7 linked regions of the Homo sapiens genome follow. The protein of the gene in region 4 purifies or fractionates together with the protein of the main gene of each other region. This does not show direct contact. Each region holds a gene or a part of one and is shown on either strand. Other genes may lie near its edges. The genes, in order: FCF1, CHERP, YTHDC2, MAGEB2, LYAR, MYEF2 and ZC3H8.

Region 1 (3,500 bases), on a different chromosome or scaffold from region 4:
GGTCCCAGCTGCTTGGGAGGCTGAGGTGGGAGGATCACTTAAGCCTGGGAGGTCGAGGCTGCACTGAGCTATGTCCATGTCACTGCCCTCCAGCCTGGGTGACGGAACAAGAACCTGTCTCAAAAGGGGGAAAAAAAGGAAGTTGCTTATAATGCATTTCCTCAAAGGAGCAATTATAAAAATTCATAAATCTGTGTGAGATGGAGGGTTACTTTTATTTATTAATGAAAATGGCCTGTAATCCCAGCACTTTGGGAGGCCGAAGCACGCGGACTACCTGAGGTCTGGAGTTCAAGACCAGCATGGCCAACATGGCAAAACTCTGTCTCTACTAAAAATCCAAAAAAAATTAGCCGGGCGTGGTGGCAGGTCCCTATAATTCCAGCTACTCGGGAGGCTGATGCAGGAAAATCGCTTGAACCCCAGAGGCAGAAATTGCAGTGAGCCAAGATCGTGCCATTGCAAGAGCGAAACTCCGTCTCAAAAAAATAAAAAAAGAAAATGGATCCTGTATTATTTTTTGCTTTATAAAACAGATTTACTGAAATATAATTGACTCCCTTTACAACTATACAATTCATCCCTTTAAAGTGTACAGTTCAGTGACTTCTAGTGGATTCACAGAGTTGTGCATCATCCATCACCATAGTCAATTTTAGAACTTCCATTATCCCAGGAAGAAACCTGGAGACCCTTAGCCATCACCCTGCAACCCTCACCATTCTCTCTATTTCTAGGCAACCACTAATCTACTTTCTGTTTCTATAAATTTCCCTATTCTGGACATTTCATAAAAATAGAATCTTATAATATTTGGTCCTTTTTCATTTAACGTACTGTTTTCAAGGATCATTTATATTACAGTTTGTATCAGTACTTCATTTCTTTTTATTACTAAATAATATTCCACTGTATGGATAGATCACATTTTAATCATTTCTACTTGCTTTTTACATTGAACTATATATTTTGAACATTTTTCCATGGCATGTATATATAAATGGGCCTCATTCTTTTATTTTGAGTCAAGGTCTTGCTATGTCATCCAAGCTGGAATGCAGTGGTCTGAGCCAATAGCTTACAGCAGCCTCAACCTCCAGGTCTCAAGTGATCCTGCAGCCACAGCCTCCCAAGTAGCTGAGACTACTGGAAAGAGCCACCATGCCTGGCTATTTTATTTATTTATGTTTTGTAGAAACAAGGTATCAATCATGTTGCCCAAGTTTTTGGGGTTTGTTTTTTTTTTTTTTTTTGAGACAGGCTGTCACTCTGTCACCCAGGCTGGAGTGCAGTGGTGTAATCTCAGCTCACTACAGCCTCTGCCTCCCGGGTTCAAGCAATTCTCATGCCTCAGCCTCCCAGTAGCCGGGATTGCAGGTGTGTTCCACCACACCCACCTAATTTTTTTTTTTTTTTTTTGAGACAGAGCCTCACTCTGTTACCCGGGTTGGAGTGCAGTGGTGCAATATCGGCTCACTGCAACCTCTGCCTCCAGGCTTCAAGTGATTCTCCTGCCTCAGCCTCCTGAGTATCTGGGACTACAGGCATGTGCCACCACGCCCAGCTAATTTTTTTGTATTTTTAGTAGAGATGAGGTTTCACCATGTTGACCAGACTGGTCTTGAACTCCTGACCTCAGGTGACCTGCCTGCCTTGGCCTCCCAAAGTGCTGAGATTACGGGCATGAGCCACCACACCCAGCCCTAATTTTTATATTTTTAGTAGAGATGGGGTTTTGCCATGTTGGCCAGGAATTCTTTTTTAAAGTTATGTATGGCCGGGCACGGTGGCTCACGCCTATAATCCCATCATTTTGGGAGTTCGAGGCAGGTGGATTGCTTCAGGTCAGGAGTTCGAAACCAGCCTGACCAACATGGTGAAACCTTGTCTTTACTAAAACTACAAAAATTAGCTGGGCGTGGTGGAGGGCGCCTGTAATCCCAGCTACTTGGGAGGCTGAGGCAGGAGAATCGCTTGAACCTGGGAGGCAGAGATTACGCCACTGCACTCCAGCCTGGGCAACAAAGTGAGACTTCAAAAAAAAATAAAGAATGAATAAAGTTACATACTATAATTGCTTCTCAGCCTTTTGGCTAAGATCAGGTGTAAAGTTACATACTATTCTATTGTTTAAATACATAATTTTTTAAACCCAGTATCTTATTAGGTATTTTGGTTATTTCCAGGTTCTACCCAATTAACAAGTCTGTAGTAAATATCCTTATGAATATGTCTCCCTAAGAGTGTATTTCTTTAGGATACATTGTCTGGAAGCTGTATTATGTATCAAGGGATTTGTGTATTTTTAATAGGTATTGCAAATTTGCCCTCAAATAGTTGTACCAATGTATATACCTACAAACTTAGTATGAGAATACTTGTTTCCTCAATATTGGGTATTTTCTTTTTTTTTTTTTTTTTTGAGATGGAGTTTCACTCTTGTCACTCAGGCTAGAGTGCAATGGCACGATCTTGGCTCATTGCAACCTCCATCTGCTGGGTTGAACTGATCCTCCTGCCTCAGCCTCCCAAGTAACTGGGATTACAGGTGCCCAACACCATGCCCAGCTATTTTTTTTATTTTTAGTAGAGACGGGTTTCACCATGTTGGCCAGGCTGGTCTCGAACTCCTGACCTCAGGTGATCCGCCTGCCTCAGCCTCCCAAAGTGCTGGGATTATAGGCGTGAGCCACTACGCCCGGCCAATATTGGATATTTTCATCTGTTTAATCTTTGCCACTCTTCTAGGTGCCACTCTTCCCAGTCTTTGGCCCAATAGACTCCGTTCAAATGTTGGCTTTACCATTTGCTATCTATTTAGTTAACTTCTTTGTGTCTCAGGTTCCTCACCTATAAAATAGGGATGATGATTTTTTTTTAAACTATTATATGGCTTTCTGTTTGATAGTTGTCAAACAGAAGTTTTTAAAATTTTTATGTGATCAGATTTACATTATCTGGCTAATTTCATGGTTTCTTGTGGTTCACATTTAAATTTTATTTCATCTGAGCCAGGCACAGTGGCTCACACCTGTAATCCCAGCACTTTGGGAGCCCAAGACAGGAGGAATGATTGATCCCAGGAGTTCAAGACAGCCTGGGCAACATGGCAAAGCCCCATCTCTACAAAAAAAAAATGTTTTTTTTTAATTAGCTGGGCATAGTGGTGCGTACCTGTGGTCCTCGCTACTCGGGAGGCTGAGGTGGGAGAATCATTAGAACCCAGGAGGATAACTAGAACCCAGGAGTTTGAGGCTGCAGTGAGTTGAGATCGTGCCACTGCGCTCCAGCCTGGGCAACAGAGCAAGACTCTGTCTCAAAAAAATAATAAAAATAAATAATTTTTTTCCCATCAGGAACTTACATTAATATAAAAATAATGACAGAGTTCAGCTTAGTTTTTTTTCCCCAGATATGTTTATAACAGGGAATCTGCAGTTTGGGGTTGGGACAATCTTAGTTTCTTAGGGTTTTCTTCTACTCTAGTTCTTCTTGTATAT
Region 2 (3,500 bases), on a different chromosome or scaffold from region 4:
GCGGAAGGGTGGCTCGCGCTGGCCCCCGCCCCAGGGCGGCTGCTCGTGCTGGCTGTTCCAGGGGCCCTCGAACTGGCTGTTCCAGGCGGCGTCGGGCTGGTTGTTCCAGGGCGCGTCGCGCTGGCCGTTCCAGCCGGGGTCACCGCGCTGCTCGCCCCACATGCCCTCATGGCTGTTGTTCCAGGGGGGGCAGTGGGGTGGGCCGCCCTGGTGGTGCGGGTAGGGTGGCTGCTCTGGCGGCTGCAAGGGAAGGGACAGGCTTGAGCCCTGCGTGGTCTAGGCCCTAGTGCTCGGCAGCATCACAGCGCTCGGCAGCATCACAGCGCTGGCTCAGACCATGGAGGCGCTGCCCTGGCCACGTTGAGGCGCCTCCTACGCTGACGCCTGCGAGGATGCTGGGCACCTGCTCTCAGCCCGCACCACATGCTGCTGCAAAATGACCAGACACCCAACCGCTGCACCCGCATCTCAGTCCCGGGGCTGTTTCTGCCGCTGGGGCGCGCTGCACCCGCACACAGGCCGCCCGCGCCACAAGGTGCTCCCCGCTACCACTGCCAGACAAACGCCAGCTCCCTCGCCCCTCAGGGGCAGGTGCAGAGGCACAGACGGTATCGCTTCTCAGGGCACCCCAGGCACCCATGGGGCGGGGCTCACTCTGACACCCCCTGCCCTGCCTCACTCCCCCTCTCCCCAAAAGCCGTCTGCTGGGCAGATACACTGCGGCACACACATCCTTGTCCTGGGGTCTGCTTCTGGGGACTTTCAAACCAAGCCAGCATCTTCCTGTAGACTGAAGACGGGAGGCTCTTCCCTCATCAGCTTCTGCTCTGGAGACTTAAAGCCAGGAGGGCAAACTCCAGCTTGGGCAGGGGAGGGGAGGAGCACAGAGGCCAATGAGAAGGCCGGTGTCTAGGGTCACAGCTGGGTAACTGCGCTGACCCCTACTAAGGGGAGGCTGGCCCAGGCTGCCACATTCACCAGGCTTCCAAGAGAAGCCAGAGAGCCAGATATTAAATATCAGGAACTACTTGTTTTTCTTTTTCTTAATTTGAGACAGTCTCGCTCTGTTGCCCAGGCTGGAGTGCAGTGGCGCGATCTTGGCTCACTGCAACTTCCACCTCCCGGGTTCAGGTGATTCTCCTGCCTCAGCTTCTCGAGTAGCTGGGATTATAGGCGCCTGGCACCATGCCCGGCTATTTTTTTATCTTTAGTAGAGGCGAGGTTTCACCACGTTGGCCAGGCTGGTCTCAAACTCCTGACCTCAAATGATCTGCCCACCTCAGCCTCCCAAAGTGTGGGATTACAGGCGTTAGCCACCACGCCCAGCCTTGCTTTTCTTTTTTAGAGACAAGGTCTCACTCTGTCACCCAGGCTGGAATGCAGTGGCATGACCATAGCTCAATGAAGCCTGAAGTCCTGGCTGAACCAATCTTCCTGCCTCAGACCACTGTGTAGCTGGGACGACAGGTGTGCACCACCATGCCAGCTTATTTTTATTCTTTGTAGAGATGGAGTCTTGCCTTGTTGCCCAGGCTGGTCCCAAACTCCTGGCCTCAAGCAATCTTCCTGCCTTGAGAAATTACTTTTAAACGTGTTAAGACCCCACATGGCCAAGTCAAGCAGGCCAGGCTGCTGTTTCTCAGTGTGGACTGCAGGATGCACTGCTGGCCTAGCGGGCACCCTCAGTGAGGGGCGTGCCCATTGTCCTGAGCCCAACCCTCTGGTCTGCAAAAAGACTGAGCCTGGAGACACTAAGGGCCTGTTTCCACACCTACAAAACAGGGACAAGAACTGCCCCCCCCAGCAGAGGGTACCTGCAAAACAGCCACCACCATCTGGCTCCTGGCCAGCACTTGGAGGTGGGAGCTGTCTTTATGGGGGTGTCCAATCTTTTGTGAGGTTCAATTTCGTGTCCTGAAGCTGGGGATGGGAGGCTCAAAGCCACAACCACCAAGTCTCAGTCCAGAGCCAGTCTCCTTGCCATCCTTACACCTGTCCCTGCAGACAGGGAGTCACCTGGAAAGGCCACGCTGCGAAGCCAACCAGGCCCCACGGGCAAGGGGGAAAGTCACGCCCTGGAAGACCCGGGGCTGTGCCTCAGTGCTGAAAGTGGACCCAGCACGCTGCAGGGCATTTCACAGCCATGCTGTGCCACATAAGGTGGCCCCTGCCTTGGCCCAGGGGTATGTGACCCATAGCAAAGCTGCATCTGAGGCCTCCCAGGGGCAACACGGCTGACATTTCTGACATTCCCCCTTTCCTTACAAAAGCACCTTGTTCTTTCCAGGATGACAAAACACTGACACTCAACTAGCTTAACCTGTTTAAGGAGGACAGGAAACAGAACACCCTGCCGTGCCTTGCAGCGTTAAACTCCCCTGCACTCGCAGGACAATGGTGATCTATACTACAGAGAAGCCCAAACCATCAAAGCTCGGGGAAGGGACGTGAAGACCTGTCACTTGACCTGTCCCGGAGCCACAGGAAGACAGGGCTGTCACTAACCCAGCATAAGCTCTGCCACAGAATATCCCTCATTGTTCCCCAGTAAGCCACTCAACGCCCACCAACTGGCATAGGGGAGGCTACCCCATCAGGCCAAGTGTGCCCCATCTGCTCCCACCCCAGGTTCCAATCAATACCTGCTGCTGGCCCCAAGGAGCCACGGGGTGAGGCTGGTCAAACCAAGGGGGCTTGTTTGGTGGGATCTGGTCGTGTGGCCCGGGGCCCCGGGGGCCGGCAGCTGCAGGATCCTGGACCCCTCCTGGAGCTTCGTACTCTGAAGAGCCAGGCATCTGGATGGGAGGCTTGCTGTCATCTAAATCCAAGTGACAGGCAGTTAGAGCAGGCCTGGCAGCAGGAGGCGCTGTCTCCTCTCCACACTACCCCAGAGCAAACCAGGCTACCGCTTTTAGTGCCCAGTGGATGATCGCTTCAGGACCCACTAAAACCATGACTATCACTGGCTTCCAGGAAGGGGACAGGGCGAGGGGAGGTTTCGACCTTGAACATGACACACATCTGTCCTTTTCAAAGCTTTACAAGAAACAGGCCTCACTTCTGCCTTCTTGGTTTGCTGAAGAATTTCTATCCACACTGAATTTGATTAGACATCTTTACTGTATCTAATTAAAAGGTCATTTCCCCACATCTGTTATTTTCTATTCTATACAATCCTCATATTCCTACAACAAATCTTCTTTGATCAGAATGTAATTTTAAAATCCTTTGCTAGGCCGGGTGCGGTGGCTCACGCCTGTAATCCCAGCACTTTGGGAGGCTGAGGTGGGTGGATCCCAAGGTCAGGAGATCGAGACCATCCTGGCTAACACGGTGAAACCCCGTCTCTACTAAAAATACAAAAAAGTAGCTGGGCATGGTTGCGTGCGCCTGTAGTCCTAGCTACTCAGGAGGCTGAGGTAGGAGAATGGCGTGAACCCAGGAAGCGGAGCTTGCAGTGAGCTGAGATCACGCCACTGCACTCCAGCCTGGGCGACAGA
Region 3 (3,500 bases), on a different chromosome or scaffold from region 4:
CCTCAGCCTCCCAATCCACTTCGATTTTCTACAGGCAACTCAAACTCAAAATAACCAAAAATTAATTATTCTCTCCAGTGAAAACACTCTTCCAATTTTCCCTATCTGACTATGGCACTACTGTCCGATTTTTTAAGACAGAAACCTGGATGACATCCTTAACTCCACTCTCTTCCTTACCCCTCACCCCCTACATACACAATCAATCACCAACATTACTTTCTTTAGTATCTCTTGAATTAATTATCTATTTATTTTTATTTCCACCACCACTAAAACAATCCAGACTACTTTCATCTCTCCCTTATTATAGGAAAGTATTAATGAAGAAGCCTCCTACTGGGTCCTCCTACCATCATTTTTGTTCCTGCCAATCCATTCTTCAGAGAGCTGAAAGAATACTATACTCATGTCATCCCACTGTTTATTTTTTTAAAAAAGAGAGAAAACTCAAAATGGTCCTTAAAAACTTGTCCCCAACTTTCAGCTCATTTTTCACTATTCTCTAAACTAAATTCTATCCAAACATCCTCCCTATTCACTCTTGCCTTTAGGCAAATAAGTATACCTGGTTATACTTTCCCTCTGCCTTTTAGAAATGCCTCCCCCTTTATTCACAATTGTCTCAGATTCATTCTTAACAACTCTGGAAACATCCAGTTGTAGCACAAATAACACTGTATTAAAATTGCTTAATTTACTGGACTCCCACATGGACTGCAACATTTGCCCTACCTCCAGCTTTACCTATCAGGCTATGGTTTATTTATCACTATCCGTAACATGTGCACAGGGAAGACTTTTGATAAACATTTGTTGAAAAATGGCAATGAAAATTTTTGCAGTTCTGGCCTTCATCTCCAATAATATACTATTTGTTATTTTATTTTTTTTGAGACAGTGTCTGGCTCTGTCGCTCCGGCTGGAGTAGAGTGGTATGATCACAGCTCACGGCAGCTGCAGCCTCGACCTCCCAGGATCAGATGATCCTCCCACCTTAGCCTCCCAAGTAGCTAGGCCCACAGGCCTGTGCCACCACACCTAGCTGATTTTTTAATTTTTTGTAGAGACAAGGTCTCACTATGATGCCCAGGCTAGTCTCAGACTCTTAGACTCAAGTGATCCTTCCACCTCAGGCTCCCAAAGTGCTGGGATTACAAGCATAAGCCACTACACCCAGCCTTACCCACAATAATATACTATTAATAGCAGGGACATCCAGCTTAATGTATCAAGCCACTATTGGTCATAAGAAAACAACTGACATAACAACAACAAAGCCCTCATGGGCATTCTATGAAGTTACAAAGTAAAGAAATAATGCACATGAGTCTTCAGTATATGAGGCATTCTTTGAAAGTCAGCATTTCATGTTTTCCTGCTAATTATAATAAAATGCAAGATAAATATTTACTGAAAATGATACTTTTTAATGTTATCTTTTGAAAATTAAAAAGTAACCCAAACACTTAGTAAAATAACCAAATTACAAAAAAAATAAAATTGTCTCCTTACTCCAAGAACCCCACAAATCCTCCTTCTCAGAGTTAACAATCATTCATTGTTTTTTAATGTTTCTCCCAGACTTCTCGATGCATTTGTGTCAAAATACATACACAAACACACATATATTTTTCTTACCACAAAAGACTACTAGATGCATGTTCTGTATCCTTTCAATTAACAATGCATCCTGAAAACTCATTCCATATAAGAACACACAGATCTACATTTTTCCTTTTAACAGCTACCCAGAAAGCCACTGTGTGGCTATAATTTATTTAATCACTTCAGTATTGATGGACATCACACTGTTCCCAGACTTTACATTATTATAAACAATGCTTCAAAGAACAGTCTTAAACATACATCTTTGCACACGTGTGCAAGCATACTCAGGATAAATTATGACAAGTGGAATCTATGGTCAAAGAGTAGATTTGGATAAATAGTTTCAAATTGCACTCTGAAGAAGTCACACCAATCTATACTCCCATCAGTAAAATATGAAAGACTATTGGCCCATGTTTTTCCTCTATGTTGTACATACTGTTAAACATTTTCATCAATGCCCATCTGAGATTCAAAAAATAATACCTCATTAATTTGCATTTATTTAGATACATATTAGGTAGTATATGTGAGGTTAATGTATTAGTAGGACATGCATATTTTTTATTTTGGTAAATTGCCTATTTGTGCCCTTTATCCATTTTAACTGGATTATTGGCCTTTAGTTGATTTCAAAGAGCTTCTTTATATAATAAGGAAATTAGCTCTTTGTCCTACATTGCATATGTTTAGAATTTTTGGTTTTGTTTTTTAAGCTTCTTACATCTGAATGTACATTTAACTAGGCAAAAGTTTTTAATTTTAACATAACCTACATTCAACTTTTAAGGAAGTATCAAAATGGCTTGCTTTGCAAAAATAATATAAAAATTTTAACATGAAAACTACTATTTTATTGAACATGGAATATATGATAAATGTGTAATGCATATAAAAACGTTTCCATTTTACAGGCAATTGAATGAATATACATTAAATATACATTACCTGCCTTTCCGCTGTATGGCACTAGCTTTGGAAATCCATACCATTTTTAACATTGTAACAAAATTCAGAGCATCAAAGGATTTCTGTAATATTTAAACCATCTTTATGTTAGAATATAAAAGGTATTTAAAAGGTAATAGCAAGAATGTTATCAACATATTTTAACATGCCAAAAGTTTAATTCAAAGTCCTCTCTTGATTAAATAATTAAAACAGCAGTACTGATTTTTAATAAACCCTGATTTTCTGGTTACAAACATACTAAGAAAAAAGGATTTAAAAACTAAACTCAGAAGAGCGTAAAACTTCTCCATTCTGTGCTCTGCTGAGCTATTTGTTGCTCTCTGCCACAGCTGGATAATGGCAGCCAGTTCTCATAAGACATCAAGATTGGAGAGAACGGATCTATTCCCTTGAGGTCACTTTCCTATCAGATTTGCATCACTGTGCAGAATAAGAAGATCAAGGAAAGACATTTTCTGAAATACTTTTCAGGGACCTAACCTTGTGGAGTAAGAATAACAATCAATAATCTTATCCCAAAGAGAAATATTTTTAACCACTTCCACTTTACTTCCTGCTGAGCTACTAACAAAGTTAGCCTTTCCCGAACGTTACAATGAAGAAAGTAAAAAAGAACCATTGTTATCCACATACTTATTCAAATAACCTACAGTGAAAATTTATTGTAGAGAAATATTTTAAAGAAATACAAGCCTAACTAGAACATGTATTTCAGTCACTCGGTACTTATACTTTCCCTTTCATAAAATAACTGCATAGAGCAAATAAAAATGTTTGCATAATAGTTTATAAAATTTTTAGAAAACAGCTTATTTGGTTTTTAATATGACATTACATTTGTCAATTTTGTATGTTAAATAACTTTTGACACTACCCATGTTTTAAATTTCAGTTACTTAATAAATAAGTAACACCTA
Region 4 (4,133 bases):
CCACAGAACCCCTACAGTGAGTTTCAGACTGCATTCTGTCAGCCCTTCCTTGGGCTTACTATGGTGACAGGAGGTACTGGCAGTGCGGCCTCCTGTCTTCTGGTGTTTGGGGTTTTATCAGTTAACTTTTAGGATTATCATATGAAGTCTTGGCAGGGCCTGAGCCACTCCCTTCCGCTACTGTGAATTTGACACCTCAAAGCACCCTGGGACTCATGAGAAGAAATTGAAGGGGTGCCTCAACCACCACCCTGAGAAGTGACACCCAGTGCTGAGAGTTCAGTGGGGTCTTTGATGTCTTGGAATCATTAGAGTCTTCAGCTCTCATTCAAGGTCCCCACCTTGGCTTCATGTAGGGCTTGGCACCAGCCCCCTTCTGCTGAGTGGTGGCTACACCGTCAGACTAAGAATCTCACCTCTCTTAGATCTTATATAAAAAAGAGAGGGGGACACTAAACCTGATAACCCTTTCCTGAGCTTTCTAGGGCTGAAAATAAAGGGTTGGACTGGATTCTTTGATGTCTCCACTGTTAAGGGTTCAGTGGTTCCTTGAATTCTCAGATTCCTCAATTTGACTCCTGGTAGAGGAGCTCTCCTTTTTATTGAACTGAGGCCTATGTCGTCATGGTAAGAGTGAACATCCCTGAGAACCCATAGGAGGAAGTGAGGGTGGCCTTATCTGACCAAATGTGGTCTTCCCAAAAGTAAAAGCTGTGGCAGGCAGATAACTGCCCTGTGATAGATGGTCCCACATACAGTCCCAACTCAGCCTCTAAATTTGACTCATGAGAGGGTCTAAGATTCTTCCCTGATATGGTTTGGATCTGTATCCTCACCAAATCTCATGTCTAACTGTAATCCTCAATGTTGGAGGTGGAGCCTGGTGGGAGATGACTGGATCATGAGGGCAGGTTTTTCATGAATGGTTTAGCACCATTCCCCTTAACGATGACTTCTCATGAGATCTGGTCATTTAAAAGTGTGTAGCGCCTCCCCTGGCCTCTTGATCCTGCTCTGGCCATGTAACATGTCTGCTTCCCCTTCCCCTTCTGCCATGATTGTAAATTTCCTGAGCCCTGCTCCCAGAAGCTGAGCAAATGCCAGCATCATGCTTCCTGTACAGCCTGCAGAACTGTGAGCCAATTAAACCTCTTTTCTTTGTAAATTACCCAGTCTTGGGTATTTATAGTAATGCCAGAATGGACCAATTAGTACATTACTTCTGTTGACAAGTGATCACCACCCTCAGATTAAAACTCTCATTTCCCTGTTACCCTTGAGTGGGAACTGATGGGCACCTCTGTTTCACATTTCTGCCTGGGGTCTCTCAGAGCTGACAGTACTGAGGATTGTGTGGCTCCCACTAATATGGGGTGGGAGCCCCCTGCAGTCGTCAGAGTTCTTATCATAACATCTGGCACAACCTGGAAACCCTCCCTCTGCTGACCTCAAGCTGCCTTTTTTTTTTTTTTTTTTAAGAGACGGAGTCTCGCCCTTTCGCCTAGGCCGGACTGCAGTGGCTCTATCTCGGCTCACTGCAAACTCCGCCTCCCAGGTTCACACCATTCTCCTGCCTCAGCCTCCCGAGTAGCTGGGATTACAGGCGCCCGCCACCGCTCCCCGCTAATTTTTTTTTTGGTATTTTTAGTAGAGACAGGGTTTCACCGTGTTAGCCAGGATGGTCTCGATCTCCTGACCTCGTGATCCGCCTGTCTCGGCCTCCCAAAGTGCTGGGATTACAGGCGTGAGCCACCGCGCCCGGCCAGGCTGCCCTCTTTAATGGGGTCGTTCACTTCTCTGAGATGTCTTGGGGAGAGTGAGTACAACTCAACATGCCATGCTCAGGTCTCCCTGGTCTGACAACAAGAGTGGGCTCTATATGGCACTTCTTTCTGGTTGGAGTCCCCTCCTCATCACTCAGTGTCACATCCTTGCTTCCTGTTAGAGACTGGGCCTCTCTGTCGCATTAGACCTACCCCATTACACCAAGACCCTCACCTCCCTGAGACCACCTCCAGAGGAAACTAGAGAGCATCTCAGCTTGCTAGCTTTGCCCTGACCTTCCTATTGCTGGCAGCAGATGTGGGTCTTGGATGTAGCCCTCAACTTCTTTAGTCCCGGGAGAGGAAGTCAGGTTGCTCTGCATTTGTCATGTCAGCCTGGGACCATCTAAAACCCAGTGTCACCTCGGCCTGGGAACTGCCCAGCATGACTCCTCTTTTGGGTAGAGGTCCGCTCATTAATACTCAGAGTCCTCACCTTAACCCCAGTTAGGTTTTAGGTTGATGCCATATGAGCAGAAGCAGGGCTGCTTCCTAGGTTCAAGGCCCTCCCCTCCCTGAGACTTTCCAGGCACAGCTTTGCTGGGGCCTCCCAGAGCCGTCTTCAGGGACGAGACTTAGTGAGGCCACCTTTGTTAAGGGTAGGAGATGTTCTCTTCAGTCCACATTTAGGGCCCTCAAATTGATTTCAGTTAGGGCCTACACCCACCCTACGTGCAGAATGAGGCCTATTCCCTGCGTCCAAACCTCCTTCCCCCGCGACTGCCCCTCCCCCCACCCTTCCCCTGCCCTGGAACTTTCCAGGTGGAACATTGCCGGACGGCTTTACCGGAGCCTCTCAGGACCAAATGCAGAAGCGGGACTTAGTGGGGCCCTCTTTGTTACAGGTGGGGGTGGTCTCTTCAGTTTACACTCAGGGTCCTCACCTTGACTGCCGACCAGTCCTGAGAATTCACCCCTGGCTGACCAGACGCCGCACCCCCTACACTCGCTCGGGTCCTCGCCTCCAAAGCGGAAGTCAGGATGAGCCACATCCGCTCGGGTCTTTTTTTTCAAAGCGGAAGTCAGGATGACTCACATCCGGCAGCCCGTGGCGTCTGAGGGCTGACGGCTGGACGCTACCGGACGTCACTGTTCTAGCGTTGCTGGTCCCTTCGTCTCCACTAGGGGTCCTCACCTCAGTATCTAGCAGCCTGGGACGAATATGCGTGCTGACCCAAATCCGCCAGCCTCCAAACAATACCCCCACCTCCCTCAGCCCCCACTGTGGAAATCTAAGCGTGCCAAACAGGCCACCCCTGCCTGGGCCTCACAGGCCTGACAGCAGCGGCAGGGCTCTGTGAATGTGCCTTTTTTGGGGAGAGGTCTTCTCATCCGCCCTCAGAGTCCTCACCTTGATTCCCGTGAAAGCCAAGACTCTCTCTCTGCACAACTGGGGTCACCCTCTTCAGACAAAGGCCCTTCCTTCCCCGAGACTATACAGGTGGAATGAAGGGGATTCAGAGATACTTATTTTGGGGCCTCTCGGTGCTAACAATGGCGAGGGGCTCTGTTTGGCCCCCTCTGCTGGTGTTGCAAGGGGGAGAGCCCCCTCGTAACACTTAGGATCCTCACCTTGATTCCTGTTAGGGCGTGGGTTTTGTCTCTTTGACCTAGGGCCATTTCCACTAGTCCAAGGTCTTCACCTCTGTGAAACACACGAGGCATATTGATGGGATTTCTCCACCTCATAATTCTCTTCTGGGCTCCCCAAGGGTGACAGCATTGGTGGAATTTGTGGGCTCCTCTGTTCTGGGGTGGGTGGTTTTGAAACTGCCCCTATGAACTGTATAAAATTAATCAGGGAAGAGGGAAGGGAGATAAATGAAGATACGCCAAGCTTGCAGAACATTCAGCATTAATCATGAAGTCAGCTGCTCTCTGACCTGCTTCCTCATAGTAGTTTGGTGCCTATTATCCCAGAATCATGTAGATCCTGTTACTAGATTATAGTTGCCCTTAATTGCTCTATAGATAACAATTTTAACATAATGAAACTTTTTTTCTTTGAGATATTCCTTAAGGTCCTGCATACTGATGATTCTAATGACTCAGCTGGTCTGAAGGACCCCACTGATGCCAGCTGCTCTAAAGGACCCTACTGACATCAGCTGGTCCAAAAGACCCCACAGGAGCTGACTAAAAAAAAAAAAACGCAGTTTCCACATTCTGATGATTTCATCCCCTTTACCCCAACGAATCAACAACCTCAGTTCTCCAGCCCCTCGCCCTCCATGATCTCCTTGCAAATCCCAGCCCAGAACTCCTTGGGGAGATGAATTTGAGAGTCTCTTCTCATCTCCTCACTTGGCA
Region 5 (2,977 bases), on a different chromosome or scaffold from region 4:
GGGCAACAGTGAGACCCTGTCTCGAAAAATAAAAATAAAATACAGTAACACATTAAATTGTACACCTGAACTACATAAAATGTTGATTTGTAAAAAAAAAAAAAAAAAAAGTTATCCATTAAGATAATTTAGAAAACAAAAAAATCTTTAGGCTCTAGGGCTAGGTAAAGAGTTGTTAGCACAATCCATAAGATAAATTGATAAATTGAACTTTATCAAAATAAAAACCATTTGCCCTAAAAAGACTCTGTTATGATGAAAAAACAAGCAAAAAGACTGAAAAAAAATTCACAAACTGTTATGTCCCACAAAGGAGTACTATTTAGAATAAATTTAAAAACTAAAATCTCAACAGTTAAAAAAAAAAAAAACCCACAAAAACAACAACCAAAAAAACCCCAAACAACTCAAATTAGAAAATAGGGGAAAAAAATTTAAAAAAAGAGAGCAGACATTTCAACAAAAACATATACAGATAGCAAATATGCACAGAAGAAGGTGCTCAACAACATTAGTCATTAGGGCCACACAAATTCAAACCACAATGAGCGGTTACCACACATCTATCAGAATGGCGAAAATACAACACAGTGGCAACGCCTAATATTGACCATGATGTGGAGAAACTAGATCCTTTACACACTGCTACTGGGAATATAAAATGTGTACAGAGACTCCTGAAACAGCTGACAGTTTTTTCCTTTTTAAATTTTTGTGGGTACACAGCAGGTGTATATGGGGCACGTGAGATATTTTGATACAGACATGCAATGTATGATACTTACATCAGAGTAAATGGGGTATCCATCACCTCAAGCATTTATCCTTTTGTGTTACAAACAATCCAATTATACTCTAGTTATTTTAAAATGTACAATTAAATTATTATTGACTACAGCCACCCTGTTGTGTTATGAAATACTAGATCTTATTCATTCTATTTTCTTGATACCCATTAACCATCCCCACCTCTCCCACAGCCTCCCACCACCCTTTCCAGTCTCTGGTAACCATCCTTTTACTCTCTATCTCCATGAGTTGGCAACTGTTTTGATTTTTAGATCCCACAAATAAGTGAAAACATGCTATGCTTGTCTTCCTGTGCTTGGCTTATTTCACTTAGCATAATGACTTCCAGTTCCATCCACGTTGCTGCAAACGACAGGATCTCATTCTTTTTATGGCTGAATAGTACTCCGCTGTGTACATGCACCACATTTTCTTTACCCATTCATCTGCTGCTGGACACATAGGTTGCTCCAATCTTGGTTATTGTAAATAGTGCTGCAACAAACACGGGAGTGCAGGTATCTCTTCAACACAGGGATTTCCTTTCTTCTGAATATATACCCAAACAGTGGGGCTGCTGGATTGGACGGGAGCTCTATTCTTAGGTTTCTGAGGAACCTCCAAGCGGTTCTCCATAGTGGTTGTACTAATTTACATTCCCACCAACAGTGCACCAGCGTTCCTTTTTCTCCACATCCTCGCCAGCATTAGTTATTGAGCTGGTGGTTTCTTAGAAAAGAAAGAATATGCAACTACTGTATGACACAGCATTGAACATTCGCTTCAGAAAAACTGACTTAGTTCACACAGAAACCTGCACATCAATGTTTACTGCAGCTTTATTCATTAATAACCAGAGACTAGAAACCACCCAGGTGTCCCTCCACAGGTGAATGATGAAAGGACTGTGATGCACGCACAGCACGGGATACTCCTCACCAATAAGATGAATATTGGTCAGTTCAGCAACCTGGGTGAATCTCCAGAGAAAAACGCTGAGCGAAGAGTCAGTCTCAAAAGGTTACATACTGTATGATTCCATTCATAGAACATTCGGAGATTCCAGAAATGAAGAACAGATTAGTGATTGCCAGAGGCTAAGGAGGGGGTGGGGGTGAGAGGGAAGTGGCTGTGGCTACAAGAGGGCAGCAGGAGGCAGCCTTGCGCAATGGCGATGGAAATGGAAGCGTATCCATGTCAACATCCCGGCTGAGATGCTGTACTACAGTTGTGTAAAGTGTTATCCTGGGTGGCAACAAGGTAAAGGGTACGCGGATACATAAGGACGCCTGAGTCTCCATTATTTCTTACAACTGCATGTGAGTCTACAAGGATCTCAAAACAAAAAATGTAACAACAACAACAAAAATAACCATTCCAGTTGTCCCCCTTGATCTGCAGGGGACAGTTCCCAGACCCCCAGTGGATGCCTGAAATCACAATGGTACTGAACCCCTATATATACTGTCTTTCCCTAAATATTCATTCATGCCTATGACAATGCTCCACTTATAAATGAGGCACAGTAAAAGATTATCAATAACTAATAATAAAATAGAACAATTTTACAATACACTATAATAAAAGTTATGTGAATGTGGTCTCTCTGTGTCTCTCTAAATATCTTATTGTCCTATCCTCACCCTTCTTGTGGTGAAGAAGGCATACAGCAGGACAGCAAGAGATCTCGCCATGCTGCTCAGAACAGCATGCAATGGAAAACTTATCAATTGTTTATTTCTGGAATTTTCCATCCCACAGATATGGGGACACTACTGTTTACTAAGTTGAGAAGGGGGTTTTAAGCTTAGAGATCTAACCCAATGCTGGCAGTCACTGAACTCTGCTAATAAAGCTGCAGGCCCATTTGAGTCTTTGGACCTGTTCTGAACTGCAGGATCCTGGGGGTTGGGGGAGGTGGCAGAGAGATGACGACTTGCCACCTCCCGACAGGTATGAGTGCTTCAGGCCTGAAGAAGCAGGAGAGAAGCTTTGTGTAAGAGACAGCATTTCAGAGGGCCCGTGAAGGCCAGGGACTGGATTCTGAGGTTGAGGATACAAGCAAGGAGACCCCAGAAACAGGCCCAGAGATGGGCAGGGGCACAGTTCAGGGGACTTCTAAGAGAACAGTGAAAGGCAGGGGCAAGAGAGTTGGGGAGGAGCGAAAGGGAACCGGGTCTCAGAAAGC
Region 6 (3,500 bases), on a different chromosome or scaffold from region 4:
AAAGTTGCTCCTGAAACATGATCAGAGAAATCCCCAGATTCCTTAGTTGGAAAGAAGGTTCCTGGATTGGCTGTTAACACATAGTTTAGAAATATCAAAAAAGTAAAATTCAAACAGTTAATTTAGAAATTTCAAACAATAATCAAACAGAAAGGCTTTGCTCAATTATCAAGGTTTCTCAAATTATAGCAAGACACATTAACGTATAAGAACAAAGTATTACTATACTACGATAACTACTCTTGCAAAGTCTTTGCAAGCACTCAAATATTACTGAATAAATTCTAGTAAAATTTAAACCTACTTATTCCAGATCCTACTGGACCCATGTTAGAAGATCCTATTCTTCCTGCAAACCCTCCAATCATTGCACTGCCTAAACAAGGATGGAAAGATAATATACTAATTAATTTTAAATAATCATACTTTAAAATTCCCAAGGTACTATGTGCTCTGATTTACAATAAATGAAAAGCATAAAGTCTTCTGAAAATAGAGTTCAAATATGTAAGATGTTGAAAAAGAGAGCTAGCATATTAAAATCCTTAAAGTGTTTTCTTCAGGTAATAAGTTGTATAAAACATTATGATTTTCTGATTTTTCACAAAAAAAGAGAAACCAAATTTCAAAAATTATAGCCTACAAAAAGAAAAGGAGAAGTATGCAGCCAGCCCTACCAAGTCTACCAAAGGAATCTCCAAAGCCTCGATTTATTCCAATATCACCACGTCCAAAATCTCGCTCCATGCTACTAGTCATCGCACCACGGTACAGCTCTGAAAAAATTGTGCAACAAATTAACCTTTTCAAATATATCAATACATGTTGAAAACATTCAGGAATGTATCTAAATTATGAAAAGACGCGTAAGTCACAAATATAAAATAGTCTGTCATTTACCCAATTTACCTCACATGCCACACATATCATCCCCATTCCCCAGGCCTGTCCTTATCCCCTAGTGCCTATATGCCTTCTGAAGACATTTTTAGCACACATTCCTAAGTTATAGGGGGGAAATATTAATAATAGGGAAAACTAAATATGCACACACTTCCCACTGCATACATTTACCTACCTCCCATTCGGCCAACTCCTCCAAATCCTCCCATGCTATTCATTGCTTCCAGACCACCAAACCCTATTCCTATGGAATAAAGATTAATTTTGAGATCCAACTGTCAGTCATGTAGCTGAAAGGTACGTTTTGTAAATGTTAAATCTCACCAGTAAGCTCTTCATCCACCCTACCTTGTGCAGCTACTTCTTAACACATCACCTTCCTTTAAGTATGTACCAGGCTCAATTTCTGCTAGCAGCCTTTAGAACATGAGCCAACAATAAACCATGACTTTTTTTTCATGGAATTCTCAACACAGTTTCTAGTTTATTAAAAATGGTGATGGGTACATACAAAAAAACAAATCTTTATACATACCTCCTCCAATTCTATTCATTCCTCCAAAACCTGGACCATCCATTCCCATACCTCAAATAAAATACACAGTATGTACTTTAAGTATATTTTATTTTTATGACTAAAAGATGATATAATGCATTATAGCAAAATAGATACCACTGGTATAACCACAATGAAACACTAGAGAAGCGGTAGGGTACAGGAGGCATGGTTTAAAGTGCTATGCCATAGCAGCTGTCTAATCATGAATCTTCAAAAGGGTTTCTTTGAACATTTATCAGACAAGAAAGCAAAATTCACTAGTAACACCCACAACATTCAGTTAGAGAATATCTTGAACTAGGTAATCATTCACTTTTTTTTCCACAATAAACACAGAAATACTACTATCAATGATTTTTTTTTTCCAGCATAGACACAGAAATAGCATTACAGCAGATTTAGAGATCAGGCCAGAATGTAAGGACTCTCTAAACATCGCAGTTAAAAGAGCAGTAAAAATTTTCAAAATATAAATAGTATGTATTTAGGAGAGGGTAGGTAGGTGTGAGAGTCTAAGGGTAAGGGAGAAAACTTGTTTGGATCAGAATGATTATGATAATGAGCCTCATAATTTAAAGTGTGACTACAGCATCTTGACAAAATAGGAATCTGATAGCATTTATTAGTCCATCAATTAAAACAGTAATTCACAAAGTATGGTCCAGGGACTCTTGAGGGTTCAATAGGTCAAAACTATTTAAGTCACCAAATACTACTAAGACATTATTTGATGTTTTACCCTCATTCTCTTGAGTTTAAGGTGTAATTTTCCAAACACTATATGATGTACAATATCACAAAAAACTAAAGTGCAGAAACAGATATAACAGCAATATTAAGCCAAACATTAAAAAGATGTGTGGAAAGGTAAAACAATGCCACTCTCCTCACCAATTTCTTTTTTGCATTGAAAAATAGTTTATTTTCTTAAAACTTTTATGTATGTTAACATGTAATGAGTTTATCATTTTTTAATATGTAATTTTTTTAATTTCTAATTTTTCATTTATAATACAGTAAATACTGGTAATTATAACTACATAAACAAAGCATTTTCGGGTTCTCAACAAATTTTAAAATATAAAAGGGTCCTAACACCAAAGTTTAAAAACCAATCTCTAAAAATGAACTGTGAGTTCTTCCAGGTGAGCAGCCAAATAACTACCTGAAAAGCCACCTTCCCAAATGGATAAACAGATTTTAGCTGCCTATGATATGGTAGCATTTCAGCTACTCCATAAATACTGTTCATAGATGATATATTCTCCTTCTGCCTTCAAGACATTTCAAAATCCAAAATGCTAAAAGGCTAGCTACAACATAGCTGGCCCCAAAGAAACCCTCCTGACTTCTGCCTATCTCTTTCATGTTAGCTGTGCTCAAGGTTTCATTCCTTTTTCAGAATGAAGTGACACCGTAAATATCTAACTATTAATTAGAGTCCTTTAAACATTATTACAGACCACATCAATGGAGGCTTTATTAGCTAGCATATGTATCATTTAAAAAGAAAAGAGGAAGTTAGAATACTCACCACCTGGACCTAAATTTCCCATTACTCCACCTATGTTCAACTGGCTGGCACTAATAGGCTGTCCACCCGGACCAAGTCCCATCCCAATGCCTCCAAGACCACCTAAAACAAAAATGAGAACAATCATTACAAAGATCCATATATGATTAACTAATTGGCAATAAAATTTTTTAAAAAGCTATATACCTGTAGTAGTATCTGTAAAATTTCTGCAAATTTTCATATAAAAGCACTGGTTCTTGTTTTTGTCTAGAAAGTAGCACACTGAAGCCCGACTATAAAACCATTTATTAATGAGAAGTGTTTTATGAAATAAAACATGATATAATACAAAGTACACCTTATACCCCACTTAAAGGTACACTGAGAGGAATAATAAAATACCTAGAGGATTTTGAATAATATCATATCACCTTATATATGGCACACATATCTGAAAATGAGTATCTTGCCCAAATTTGTAGACCCACTTAAAATTTGATAATTACTTTTTAAATGGTTCAA
Region 7 (4,170 bases), on a different chromosome or scaffold from region 4:
CTTGCTCTTCTCTCTGAAGCCTAATCCTTCTTGCTATCTAAAACGGCAACACCATCCCTCTCAAGATCCCTACCAAAACCTTAAAGTCAATCTTGATTCCTCTCTCACATCCCCATCCAATCTCTGAGGAAATCCAGTTTATTCTATCTTCAACATACCCACGTTTGACCACTTCTTGCCACTAATACAACAATCCAAGCTGCTCTGGCACCCCTACATTCTACTCTCAACACAACTAGAATGACCCTGCTAAAATATTTCAAATGTCACTCTGCTGAAAAACCCTCCAATGGTCTCTTGTCTCATTCAGAGTAAAAGCCAAAGTCCTTATTTCGGCACCTACCAGTTCCTCCATGATTGGGCTCCCCTAACCCTACCCCAGTACCTCGCAGACTTCCAAGTCCCTCTTACTCCACCCCAGCTGTCCTGGCCACTTTGCTCCCCTAACCCAATCACACCAAGCTCACTCCGTCTGAGGACCTTTATACAGACTCCTCTCCACCCCTCTGGACTATGAAACCCCCTCACCTCCTTCAGGTCCCTACACAGATTTTTAAAACTTACCAATGTTATCAGTGAGGCTTTCCTTATCTACCTTCTTAAAATATCTACACCTCCCAGCCGGGCGCGGTGGCTCACGCCTGTAATCCCAGCACTTTGGGAGGCCAAGGCGGGCAGATCACAAGGTCAGGAGATCGAGACCATCCTGTCTAACATGGTGAAACCCCGTCTCTACTAAAAATACGTCGGGCGTGGTGGCAGGCGCCTGTAGTCCCAGCTACTCGGGAGGCTGAGGCAGGAGAATGGTGTGAACCCGGAAGGCAGAGCTTGCAGTGAGCCGAGATCGCGCCACTGCACCCCAGCCTGGGCGACAGAGCCAGACTCTGCTCAAAAAAATAAAAAAAAAACCCACAAAACTACTCCCTCCCTACCATCCCACCAGTGCTTATTTTCCCCTTACCCTTCATTCATTTTCTCAGGGCATTTAGTACCACCTAAAATATGATATATTTATGTATGTCTCCCCCTTCCCCTAATAATGTAAATTCATTAGTACAGAAATTTTCATCTCTTCTTCATTTACTACTATATCCCCAAGGCCGTAGCAGGTGCTCAATACGATTTTTTGAATGAATGAGAAGTATTCCCATCACAAATTACTCGGAAAAAAAACCAGAAACCATATGAGAAAAGACTGATTCATCTGACTGCATAAAACCAAACCACAACATCCCCATTCCTTTTTACATTGAAAAATAATGCCATAGGCAAAGACAAATGACAATTGGGAGTAAAGTATTCGCAGATAAGAGATCCTAGAATGTGAAAAAGACCAAAAAGGAGAAAAATGGGCAAATAATATGGACAGCTCACCATACTTCCATACCATCCTTCACCCATCATTTTGGCAAAATTCCAAGTGTCTTTTATGTATTGCAGTCAAGTTTTGGGGAATGGAGCTTGTGTCCAACACACTTTGAAACTGATAGCTGCTGTTCGGATTTTTAAATGTTGCTATTATCTTTTTTTTGTGTGATGAATTCTTATGTATTTTATAACATATCAATTAGTACCAGTTATTTTTCTTAGTAAATTATATCATCTGCAAGTAATTAGTGTATCTGTCTCTTTCCAATATTTATAGGGCTTATTTTAAAATTTTAGTCATTTTGCATGAGAAGCTTGGTGATAAAATCATGGATCCTGGACATAGCTCTTCCACTTACACTGTGCAATCTCGGCAGGTTATTTAGCCTCTCCGTGCCTCAGTTTTCCCATCTGTAAAACGAGGACGGCATCATCTTCTCTTTAAGTTTGTTTTGAGGATTAAGTGATTTATTTCATGTAAAGCACAAGGTAAAGCTCTGGATGATCAGTTAAGGTAAAATTTGAGATAGAGTGAACAGCTGACCAATATCGAATGGTAAAATCAATCACAACTGGAAATATATCTCAGTTGAGGGAAATAAAAGACGTAGGTTTAAGAACAAAGATGGTGGTTTTTAGCATTTCAAATCACTAGACACTGCTCCAAAAATATAATCTACAAATTAGGGCCATCTGACCAAGAGTCTCACTTGCTTTTCCAACCTAATGGAAATATTAAGTCCAAATGACGTCTGTTGCTTTATTGTGGTCTTTAGGGTCTTTCCATGCAAATCAGTGGACTAATGGCAGAGTATTGCCTATTCTTTACCTTTCAATAAACTTGTGGTTTCATCCTTTCTACAGAAAAGAACCTAGGAGGTGTCAGTGAAAAAGGTCACATCAGTGTCCTCTGGGAGTTTACGGTCTCGTGGAAACAGGCAACAACGGTAAAGACAGACGCTACGGGACCACAGAGGCGGGCTCCTCACCCGCTGCTGTGCAGAGAAAGGGGCGCATCCCGGAGCCTTCTCGCCTCCACCCCGCTCCCCCGCCCAGGCTCTCGACAGCCCCGGCCCTGACGGCCTAAGCCTGAGCCCCGCGTTCAGCTTCTGCTCCCACCCGGACCCCGCACGACCTCTATAGGTCAGACGGTGGCGCCCGGCCGGCCCACGTGCTCCCCACGGGCCCTCGCGACGCGGCCCGGACGTGGCCCCGGACTGCCTCCAATCCAGAAGAAACTAAGAGGCGGAGTCCCGCTGAGCCCCTGCATTCAAAAGATGAAAAGATATGGGATCACCTTTCGTCAGAGTCCGTGGCCGTTTTGCCGAGGGCCGGGTTGGGGGGTTTTGAGAAAAGATTCTCAAAATCCATGACCCAGACAGGTCCTCCCTTTCGCGAGCCGGGAAGCTACAGAGTAACAACCCGAGAGAGTGACAACCCGGACGCGACGAGACGGACCCAGAGCCGCGCCAGGGCCACAGGCTCCGCCCCGCGCAGCCTCACCTGCCCCGCGCATGCGCTGCACCGCCCTCCGCGACTCTGGGCAGGCCGGGTCTCTCCCTGCCTCCTTCGCCTCGGCTCTGCGCAGGCGCCGCCGTGGTTGCCCTTCTGTAAGCTTTTTCGTCCTTTACCTCAGATAGTAGAATTTTGTTTATTTTATTTATTTATTTGTTTGTTTGTTTGTTTATTTAAAGACAGAGTCAAGCTCTGTCGTCCAGGCTGGACTGCAGTGGCGTGATCTCGGCTCACTGCAACCTCCGCCTCCCGGGTTCAAGCAAGTCTCCTGCTTCAGCCTCCTGAGTAGCTGGGACTACAGGTGTCTGCCACCACGCCCAGCTAATTTTTGTATTTTTAGTAGAGACGGGATTTCACCATGTTGGCCAGGATGGTCTCGATCTCTTGATCTCGTGATCCGCCCGCCCCAGCCTTCCAAAGTGCTGGGATTACAGGCGTGAGCCACCGCGCCCGGCCCCAGCCCAGAATTTTTAAAATTAGTTGTTAGGATTCTGCTTTCACCTTGGTGAAAACTCTTCCATCAAAATCACAGTATTTCTAAGGGATGGTAGTAACAGCTAACATTTATCTGAGCACTCCACTACTATTCCTTAGAAATAGCGTTTCACATGTTAGCTAACTTAATCCTCACAACAGCCCTGTAAAAGATGTTCTATTACCATTCACAGTTTTGAAATGAATAAACAGATGTGTAGTCAGGTAATGTAACTTGTAGGGTCTCTACAATTGAATGGGAATTAAAATGAATACACAAGTAACCTCAAGACAGAAAAGTCCGTTAAAAAGTACCAAATACTAAGAGAATTCAGAAGAGGGAAAAAATTGCATCCAGTTGGGAAGGCTTCTTGAGAAGGGAGTATTTGAGCTGGGTCTTGAGATATTTCCATAGGAAAAGAGGAAGTGGGCATTCCAAGTAGAGAGAATTGTATGAAGGCAGGAAAATAGAGCATGCTGTTGCAGAACAGGAAATTGCTCAGTTTTGCTCAATGTAATGCCATTTAAGGGACCTGTAGAAAGGAAGGCTCAAACCCTAGGTTGGGCCAGTGATAGAGAACCTGACTTGCTTCTGTAAGTGAAGGGAGTGTTTGATTCTTGGCATGAATCAGGATCCCTTTACCGATTAGTGAAGGGAACTATTTGAAGCCAGACATCTTCCCCAGGGAAATTCTACTTTCCCATGTTGTTTATATTGTAGGCCATCACCTATGGAACATGAATCATTACTAAAAATTCAGAGAAAAAATTGAATTAAGGAGATAAAAACTAGAATTACCCCCTCTTTAGCAG

What was found.
Region 1: the proteins of MAGEB2 (region 4) and FCF1 purify together in Homo sapiens (co-immunoprecipitation; 2 studies listed by BioGRID and IntAct, with this or other methods). This does not show direct contact.
Region 2: the proteins of MAGEB2 (region 4) and CHERP purify together in Homo sapiens (co-immunoprecipitation; 2 studies listed by BioGRID and IntAct, with this or other methods). This does not show direct contact.
Region 3: the proteins of MAGEB2 (region 4) and YTHDC2 purify together in Homo sapiens (co-immunoprecipitation; 2 studies listed by BioGRID and IntAct, with this or other methods). This does not show direct contact.
Region 5: the proteins of MAGEB2 (region 4) and LYAR purify together in Homo sapiens (co-immunoprecipitation; 2 studies listed by BioGRID and IntAct, with this or other methods). This does not show direct contact.
Region 6: the proteins of MAGEB2 (region 4) and MYEF2 purify together in Homo sapiens (co-immunoprecipitation; 2 studies listed by BioGRID and IntAct, with this or other methods). This does not show direct contact.
Region 7: the proteins of MAGEB2 (region 4) and ZC3H8 purify together in Homo sapiens (co-immunoprecipitation; 2 studies listed by BioGRID and IntAct, with this or other methods). This does not show direct contact.

Annotation. Positions count from the first base shown.
Region 1 is NC_000014.9:74,719,644-74,723,143, forward strand, and holds part of FCF1 (rRNA-processing protein FCF1 homolog), read left to right. Parts: intron 1-3,500. UniProt on the Homo sapiens protein: Part of the small subunit (SSU) processome, first precursor of the small eukaryotic ribosomal subunit.
Region 2 is NC_000019.10:16,525,438-16,528,937, forward strand, and holds part of CHERP (calcium homeostasis endoplasmic reticulum protein), read right to left. Parts: intron 2,819-3,500; coding exon 2,643-2,818; intron 241-2,642; coding exon 1-240. UniProt on the Homo sapiens protein: Involved in calcium homeostasis, growth and proliferation.
Region 3 is NC_000005.10:113,555,194-113,558,693, reverse strand, and holds part of YTHDC2 (3'-5' RNA helicase YTHDC2), read right to left. Parts: intron 2,643-3,500; coding exon 2,560-2,642; intron 1-2,559. UniProt on the Homo sapiens protein: 3'-5' RNA helicase that plays a key role in the male and female germline by promoting transition from mitotic to meiotic divisions in stem cells.
Region 4 is NC_000023.11:30,214,230-30,218,362, reverse strand, and holds the start of MAGEB2 (melanoma-associated antigen B2), read right to left. Parts: upstream 2,801-4,133; 5' UTR 2,708-2,800; intron 1-2,707. UniProt on the Homo sapiens protein: May enhance ubiquitin ligase activity of RING-type zinc finger-containing E3 ubiquitin-protein ligases. Proposed to act through recruitment and/or stabilization of the Ubl-conjugating enzyme (E2) at the E3:substrate complex.
Region 5 is NC_000004.12:4,270,178-4,273,154, forward strand, and holds part of LYAR (cell growth-regulating nucleolar protein), read right to left. Parts: intron 1-2,977. UniProt on the Homo sapiens protein: Plays a role in the maintenance of the appropriate processing of 47S/45S pre-rRNA to 32S/30S pre-rRNAs and their subsequent processing to produce 18S and 28S rRNAs. Also acts at the level of transcription regulation.
Region 6 is NC_000015.10:48,150,796-48,154,295, forward strand, and holds part of MYEF2 (myelin expression factor 2), read right to left. Parts: intron 3,099-3,500; coding exon 2,997-3,098; exon of another isoform or gene 1,512-2,996; intron 1,490-1,511; coding exon 1,439-1,489; intron 1,148-1,438; coding exon 1,079-1,147; intron 777-1,078; coding exon 678-776; intron 377-677; coding exon 305-376; intron 1-304. UniProt on the Homo sapiens protein: Transcriptional repressor of the myelin basic protein gene (MBP). Binds to the proximal MB1 element 5'-TTGTCC-3' of the MBP promoter. Its binding to MB1 and function are inhibited by PURA.
Region 7 is NC_000002.12:112,252,243-112,256,412, forward strand, and holds the start of ZC3H8 (zinc finger CCCH domain-containing protein 8), read right to left. Parts: upstream 2,801-4,170; 5' UTR 2,740-2,800; coding exon 2,666-2,739; intron 1-2,665.